2 separate regions of the Homo sapiens genome follow, and region 2 is reported to be linked to region 1. Evidence: microRNA targets listed by miRTarBase, many of them from high-throughput screens and not tested one by one. Region 1 holds a microRNA gene; the other region holds the end of a gene's coding sequence.

The links. Region 1 holds the annotated microRNA hsa-miR-6838-5p (AAGCAGCAGUGGCAAGACUCCU, at 1,707-1,728, opposite strand). A microRNA usually pairs through its seed, bases 2 to 8, with sites in the 3' UTR of a target mRNA and lowers its output. Matches are read on the target gene's strand: a 7mer-m8 pairs with bases 2 to 8, a 7mer-A1 pairs with bases 2 to 7 and ends in A, and an 8mer does both.
Region 2: the mRNA of PDIA6 is a reported target of hsa-miR-6838-5p. Seed matches in the 3' UTR shown: 7mer-m8 at 3,484-3,490.

What each region holds. Positions count from the first base shown.
Region 1 is chr7:44,071,701-44,076,044 of GRCh38, forward strand. MIR6838 (microRNA 6838) reads right to left here and starts at 1,733; the gene lies at 1,678-1,733. POLM (DNA polymerase mu) reads right to left here. Exons shown (of 11, transcript NM_013284.4): 7 at 2,698-2,830; 8 at 2,431-2,533; 9 at 2,083-2,325; 10 at 1,925-2,008; 11 at 362-1,677. The coding sequence ends at 1,591. RefSeq lists enhancers at 2,399-2,598, 2,669-2,738.
Region 2 is chr2:10,780,488-10,784,487 of GRCh38, forward strand. PDIA6 (protein disulfide isomerase family A member 6) reads right to left here. Exons shown (of 13, transcript NM_005742.4): 13 at 2,904-3,839. The coding sequence ends at 3,771. ATP6V1C2 (ATPase H+ transporting V1 subunit C2) reads left to right here. Exons shown (of 14, transcript NM_001039362.2): 13 at 1,756-1,888; 14 at 2,687-4,000. The coding sequence ends at 2,776. Among named protein-coding and RNA genes, the nearest start is that of PDIA6, 30 kb to the right of the region's middle.

The DNA.
Region 1 (4,344 bases):
GCTCACTGCAACCTTGGCATCCCAGGTTCAAGCAATTCTTATGCCTCAGCCTCCCGTGTAGCTGGGAATACAGGTATGAGCCAACATGCCCAGCAAATTTTTGTATTTTTTGTAGAGATGGGGTTTCGCCATGGTGGCCAGGCTGGTCTCAAACTCCTGGCCTCAAGTGATCCACCCGTCTCAGCCTCCCAAAGTGCTAGGATTACAGGCATGAGCCACGGCATCCGGCCACAACCCAGACATTCAACACCTGAATGGATAAACTGTAGAACACCCATGGCATGGAACAAATTACAAACTCAACATACCCAGCAACCTGCAGGAACGTCAAAGGCATTAGGCTGTGGGGAGAGGCCAGTCCAAAGGTTAAATATAGTTTGGTTCTATTTACATGACATTCTAGAGAAAGCAAAACTATAGGGATGTAGCACCGCTAAGTGGGTGGGGGTGGAGAAGCACATGACCACAATAGGACAGCATGGGAAGTGTTCTGGGGATGGACCTGGTGTGCCCTACGTGTGCAAAAACTGCACCCCAAGAGTCAACTTTACTGCATGTTTTCAAAATATTTTTTAATGTGATGAGTGGTCTGGGAAATCCTCGCCTAACAAAGTGGCTTTTGATTCAAGGCCTGAAGAAGGGGAGGGCCCACTCCAGGTAGATGACATGGCCAGGGCAAAACCTGAGGCCAGAGTGTGCCTGGGGATATGAGGGACGTGGAGGGCACCCATGTCCAGCCCACCTCAGTGCTTCTGCCTCAGTGAGAAGGGGAGGGAGTTGGCCACAAGGGGGCCTGGGTGCATCAAATAGGAAGCCGGTGAGTCAAGCAGCTCGGGGCCAGTGGGGCTGGAGAGATGCCAGAGCCAGGGGCTATGTGTGGACTTAGGGTTTGGAACCATTAAAGGGCTCTGCGACGGGAGTGGCAGGATATGACCTATTTTTGAGACATTGTGCTGAGAACAGGCCTTAAAGGCAGAAGCACAGAGCCTGGCTCGGGGCGCTGCAGTACTGAAGCCCCATAGTTGAAAATTATCTTCCTCCCAGCTCCTACCCAGGCCCTCTCCCTCTCCAGATGCCTACAGCACACCAGACAGTAGGCTCCTTGCTGGCACGAACCACAGCCTCCAGCTCATGGCTCTCAAATGCAGTGCAGGTATGCATGGTTCTCTTCTGGGCATTCTGGGCAGGGTGCCCTGCAGGAGCCACAGTTAACTGCAGTGCAACTAATGAGACACTGCACATCAGGGACCACTTGCCATTCATGACTGCAGGCCCCACCACAGCTCCACGATGTGGGCCCCACTCACATCCCATCCAGGGCAGGAACGTGAGCCATGGGGAGGCTAAGAGCAGACCCAGGGTCACACAGTGATGAGGCTGGCACTGAGGGCTCCCACCTCATCACACCCTGCAGCACACCAGCAGGGGCTCAACTGATCCTGCAGGCACAATTGACCTCCGGAAGAGCCAGGCCTTGGCGGGGAGGGGTGAAGGTGGGGGTCAGGGGGCAGCATATCTGCCTGGAGACATTCAGTGGCCAGGTTGGGGGCAGCCCAATTTCCTGAGTGGAAGTGGGGGACACAGGCAGGCTCAGGCGTTTCTCTGCTCTGGAGGAAGGTACTCAAGGCCCAGGTGTCTGAAGATGTCTTCCTCTGAAGCCGCTTGGAAAAATGTCTTCTGCAACAGAAGCAGGACTTCCGTGACCTAGGAGTCTTGCCACTGCTGCTTCCCTGCAGGAAGACTGAGGGTGGGGAAGAGCCCAGCGCCGAGGTGGGGTGTGCTCTTGAGGGCCAGGAACTGTGTGTGGAGACCCAGATTCGGGTCCTATGGGTTTCAGGCTGGAGGGGTCTGGGGCCATTTCAGATTGTGGGTCAGGGAGCGGACTATGGGTGCTGTTTGCTGTCCCCAGTCCCCAACAATGTACCTGCTCCGGGTCAAACAGCCCATGGCTGTTCAGCCACAGGCCCTTCTCCTTCCGGCTGAAGCGGCGCAGCTCCCGCTGGAAAAGCTGTAGGGAAGGGATTGTCCTCAGCAGGGCTGGCCCAGCCCCACCCCCAGGCGGCCCAGCGGCACACTGCCTACCTTGGAGCCAGTCCAACCGAGCAGGGCGAAAGGGAACTGGCTGACGGGTGCAACTACCAAGTCCACTCTCACGGCCTTCCAGGATGGGCAGGGCCTCGTGGATCCCCCCACAGCAGCCCCTGGAGGTTGTGGTAGGCGGAAAATGCAGAAACTTCTCTCAAAAGCGTCCATGTGGCTCTGTTGGGCCAGGCGGGTAGGGGACTCACAGCAGCTGTGCTGGTGCTGGTGGTACAGGATGAGGCCCTGTGGGGAGAGGCGGGCGTGGCTGAGACCATCCGGTGGTGTGGAGAGAGCAGGAGGCAGTGGCATTGGCCAGCGGTGGCTCTTGGGGAGCAGGGAGGCCCTCACCTGGTCCTGCAGGCGGCACATCACTCTAGGCAGCAGCCCCGCCTCCTGACCCTCCTTGGGGTGGGTGATGAGGAAGTCCACGTCATGGCCCTGCAACTTCCCCCTGAGGGCGTCAGTCTGACTCTGACTCAGGGACACGGCCTGCTCACTCCAGCCCCAGGCCACATCCCTTCCAACGAGTGGGCCCGCTTCAGGGTCCCCGACTCAGGTCCCTTCACTGGGGAGGGGTCTGAAGCCAAGCCAGAGGGGCACGTCGGGCCTTCTTACCTGCGGAAGCCGCCGGTCAGCGTGACGGTGGCCCCAGGCAGGGCCTGCCCCACAGCTTCCTCCACCACCTGCTGCAGGGCATCTACATCGGACCGCAGGACTGGGGTGCTCAGGTCCTGGTGGTGCTGGAGCCCTGGGGGCAACACCGGCCCTCCTGACTCACCCAGCCTGCCCACCACACCGAGCCCCCATCCCTCACCAGCATGAGGTGATCAACCTGGGGCCCCGTCATTGCAGGACCAGGAGAGGCCTCCGAGGAAGGTGAGGCTAGGGCAGGGAGCAGAGTGAGATCCCAATCTAAGCCTGACACTATCTTCTCTCCCCCTTTAAATTTTAAACTTTTATTTTGAGACAGTTGTAGATTCACTCGCAGTTAAAAGAAATAGCACAGAGGGAGATCCCATGTGCCTTTTACCCAGCTCCCCCAAAAGGTTAACCCCTTACAAAACTATAATTTTGCAACCAAATATAAGGATACTGATGTTGATACAGTCATGCCACAGGCTATCTCTTTTGATGGCTGTTTTTCCTTATGCATAAAGTGGGACCAAGAGGTGGTAAAAGGATGGAAGATGGCTTTGCCATGACGAACACCTCACTCTGGCCTACTTCTGTTTCCTCACCTATCAGCCTCCCACACGCAGTTAAGGAGAGGTTTATTTATTTATTTGAGATGGAGTCTCGCTCTTGTTGCCCAGGTTGGAGGGCAGTGGCGCAATCTGAGCTTACTGCAACCTCCACCTCCCAGGTTCAAGTGATTCTCCTGCCTCAGCCTCCCGAGTAGCTGAGATTACGGGTGTCTGCCACCACACCCAGCTAATTTTTTATTTTTAGTAGAGACAGGGTTTCGCCACGTTGGCCAGGCTGGTCTTGAACTCCTAACCTCAGGTGATCCACCCGCCTCGGCCTCTCAAAGTGCTGGGACTACATAAAGATGTGAGTCATGGCACCCAGCTAAGGAGAGGTTTAAATGTGAGGAACAGCAGCACCTGGCACAGTGAGCTCTCAGTAAACGCTGCTAACCATTCCTGACTACTCTTGCCATGGGGAGAGGCGATCAAGAGGAACCAGCTCTGCGGGTCTCACCTCCTGTCAGCTGAACTGGGCAGTGGCCCGGGGGAAGATGTGCGAAGAGGCAGTGGAGCTGGCAGTGCCTGCTGGGCTGTGGGGATTGCTTCAGCAGAGCCCTCAACCCAAGGGAGGTCCCAGATGGTGTGGCCAGAGTAGCCAGGCAGGCCATGCAGAGAGAACAGAGTATCTGCTCAACACCTGCCACTTGCCGGCTCTCACAGGGGAGCCTACGAATTCATTCCTTCCCACCTTTTTTTTTTTTTTTTTTTGAGATAGGGTCTTGCTCTGTCACTCAGGCTGGAGTGCAGTGGCTCAATCTCAGCTCATTGCAACTTCCACCTTGGCCTCAAGGCTTGACCTCCCGGGCTCGAGCGATCCTTGTACCTCGGCCTCATGAGTAGCTGGTACTACGGGCATCCACCATCACGCCTGGCTAACTCTTGTATTTCTCGTAGAGACAGGGTTTCACCCTGTTGCCCAGACTGGTCTTGAACTGCTGAGCTCAAGCGATCTACCCACCTTGACCTCCCAAAGTGCTGGGATTACAGGTGTGAGTCACCATGCCCAGCCTTCCTT
Region 2 (4,000 bases), not on the chromosome of region 1:
GTACCCATGCGCACCTGTGCACGCCCATCTCAAAAGCCTGTACCGACACGGATGGCAGCATTGGGTTGGAGGGTGTACCCAGCTCCTGGGAGTGTTCTAGCCATCTCTAATATACATGGCCCCAGATCAACCCTGCCCGGCTCAGAAGTCGGTTGCTCTCAGGCCTAACGGCCTAACACAGTGAAGCCTGTCCATGCCTTCCAGGATGCGCATCTGCCCAAGAAAGAGGTTGAGACCGATGGGCCAGCCGCTCCTGGGGTCCTTTTTTTTTTTTTTGAGATGGACTCTTGCTGTCGCCTAGGCTGGAGTGCAGTGGCACAATCTCAGCTCACTGCGACCTCCACCTCCCAGGTTCAAGCAATTCTCCTGCCTCAGCCTCCCCTAGTAGCTGGGATTACAGGCGTGCACCACCACGCCCAGCTAATTTTTGTAATTTTAGTAGCGACGGGGTTTCACCACGTTGGCCAGGCTGGTCTTGAACTCCTGACCTCAGGTGATCCAGCCTGCCTTGGCCCCCCAAAGTGCTGGGATTACAGGTGTGAGCCACTGCACCCGGCATGGTGTCTTGTTCTGGGCAGAATGGAGAAGGCATTATTAGCAGGACGGGTGCCACAGAGACAGGACAGGGCCGGAAGAACTCAGAGGCTGAGGAAAGGTTAAGGGCTGGAGCGTATGTCCCTTAAGGACCTAGGGTGCCTACCACCCACCACAGCGAGCACAACAGAGGCAGGCCTCTCCCTCAAGCCAGGCTGCTGGGGGAGGAGCGCCTTAAGCTTTAAGGACGTGTCCTAGATGAATAAACAACCTCCAGTGCAAGTTGGTAATGACTGTGGTGGAATTAGCCTGGCGTGGTGGTGGCGGGCGCCTGTAATCCCAGCTACTTGGGAGGCTGAGGCAGGAGAATCGGTTGAACCCAGGAAGTGGAGGCTGCAGTGAGCCGAGATCGCACCATTGCACTCCAGCCTGCGTGACAGAGCGAGATTCTGTCTCAAAAAAAAAAATAGATAAATAAAACCTTAGTAATATTAATAGGTCCTGCTCCCAGGACTTATCTTTATGGCAGCCCCGTCTGCACAGAGTACTAGGTGAGTGGAAGGGCGTGTAAAAACAGACTTCACATCAAGGCCTGGGGATCCCGAGGGAACATAGGTGCTAACTACTGAACATCCGATCCTTTGCTCCCTCAGAGTATAAAAATACATCAACAATCACAAAATGTTTTCCATTTACAGCACTTGCTATATTTTGTGTGGGCTAACACCCCAGGAATAGCTCATCCCAACAACTGGTTTTAAACATGCTCAGGCATACAACTAGGTATGTTAAAAATGTTTTCTATCTACCCAAAAACTCAGCGAAAATAGTAACAATCTTGATAAACCAGATTTTTGCCTCTCCTTTAGTGGAGAAAAACGGCCGAGCTGGGTTTTAGACAAACGCCTTGGAGTCCGAATGTTCAGTCCAACTACCTGCATTCAACTTGAGCATGCACCGTGGAATGGCCATTCATGGCCAGAGGGATGACCTCTTTTGCTCTATAGTTGAAAACTAGCTATCAGAAGGGGGTTAGCAAATTCTAGAGCTTTTTCTATCCAGAGATCACCGCTGACCCTAGGCATTTTGCTCGAGTTTGACTTTATGAAGCTGTGTTGGTTGAAGCTTTTCACCCTCGGAATGTACTGTTTCTGGTCAGGTTCCTTCTATCCGTGTTTGCATTTGGAGCAGTGAACTGACACATTTTGTCTATCTGAAAAGGTATGGACTACCAGTGAACTTCCAGGCAGTGCTCCTGCAGCCGCATAAGAAGTCATCCACCAAGCGTTTAAGAGAGGTTCTAAACTCTGTCTTCCGACATCTGGATGAAGTAGCCGCTACAAGTATACTGGATGTAGGTATCCAGAAACAGCAGTATTTCTACAGTAAGCTCAGCATCTTACTTTCAAAAAACTGGTATCTGCCTGTAATCCCAACACTTTGGGAGGTAGGTGGATCACTTGAGGTCAAGGGTTTGAGACCAGCCTAGCCAACATGGTAAGACCCTGTCTCTACTAAAAAAAAAATTGGGCTGGGCATAGTGGCTCACGCCTGTAATCCCAGCACTTCAGGAGGCCAAGGCGGGTGGATCACGAAGTCAAGAGATGGAGACCAACCTGGCCAACATGGTGAAACCCTGTCTCTACTAAAAATACAAAAATTAGCTGGGTATGGTGGTGTGTGCCTGTAGTCTCAGCTACTTGGGAGGTTGAGGCAGGAGAATCGCTTGAACCTGGGAGGCGGAGGTTGCAGTGAGCTGAGATCACGCCACTACACTCCAGCCTGGCGACAGAACAAGACTCTGTCTCAAAAAAAAAAAAAAAAAAAAAAAAAAAAAAAAAATTTGCCAGGAGTGGTGGTGCATGCCTGTAATCCCAGCTACTTGGGAGTCTGAGGCAGGCAGTGAGCTGAGTCCAGCCTGGGTGACAGAAACTGTCTCAAAAACAAAACAAAGCAAAACTATCTGTCAGCCTGTTATGAAAATCTACATGTCATACACATTAAAGCACAGCAAGGAGAGGGTTGGAGGGGTGGACCACAGCTACGCAGAGCAGAACGTACGCTCAGTGCCTGGCGAGCTTCCTCAAAACTAAAAGGATAAGACAGGAAACTAGTTTATGCACTTAGAGCATTACCATGTCTTCTTTTGTAGGCATCTGTGGAGATCCCGGGACTGCAACTCAATAACCAAGACTATTTTCCTTATGTCTACTTCCATATTGACCTTAGTCTTCTTGACTAGAAAGGCCAGCTGGCACCTCTGTCTCATGTTCGTGCAGATTATTACAGACACCTCTTTCCTTTAGCCAGAGAATGGTTCAAATGTCTTACAGAACTAAGATCTTTTTCAGAGAAATTGCTCACAAAAGTTAGTGACAGTTGTATTTATTTTTTTAAGTTACAATAAAATGCTCTCAAGTCCTTTGAATGTTCCAACAAATTCAAAACTTCATTTTCTGAATGTTTTACATAAATGCGAACTACCTGTTCGCATTGGTAACCTGCTGCTGTATTTCATGTCTTAACGGCTATTTTGAGGTTCATTAACAACATAGAAAGCCTTGAACTGTATAACCAGCTAGATTCCTTAATAATTAGTCACTAGAGACAGCCCAAAGACAAATATTGGGCAGGAAATCAGTTCTCACTGAGCCCGGTTTCCATGTAAAATCTCTGTTGTGGTGGGCATAGGTGGCACCATCTAAAGAAAAGAGGTCTTGTTTTTTGTTTAAAAAAGTTTGTGGGGAGGAAAGACATCTGTGTATCACTTCAAAATATTGATTTACTGCTAAACATCACTCTGAATTTATGATGTGGATACTAACTTCATACATTTATCGGCATTGTCCAAAATATTTTATTCTTTAATGGAAAAAGCCATTAATATTCAAATGAAGGGATCACATTAAAAAAAACCCATACATAAGAAACAGCCTCCAAGAACATTCAAGCAGCAGTCAGAGAGAAAAATGTTTCGACAGCCAAGTTTTCTTCAAAATATTATGTGACAGAATACGACTCAATTCACCGGCTACAACAATTCATAGAATTTTTCAATGTTTTCTTGAGATGCAAAAGTTCACTGTTGCAGTGTTTTCAAATGACCAATCAAGTACTACTTCTTGGTTAAAAGGCCACTGGTAGAGTCATCTGAGTGTAGAGAATGTCCCTTCACTGCTGGAAAAATCCACTGGCTCCCAAGAAAAGAAAATGGTCTGAAGCCTCTGTTGTGGCTCTCACAACTCATCTTTCCCTAAGTCATCAAGCTCCACATCACTGAGGTCAATGTCATCCTCCACGGGAAGCTGGGAGACGACAGAAAGCCACTGTTAGATCTGCAGAAGGGGACACCCTGGAAGGTCAACATCTCATTTTATGGAAGAGCGACTCTCTGGAGCTACTCCTGCTACAATCCAGGTTCTCCTCAGTCTGACTCCTACCCTGACCTTCGTACCTATGATTATAC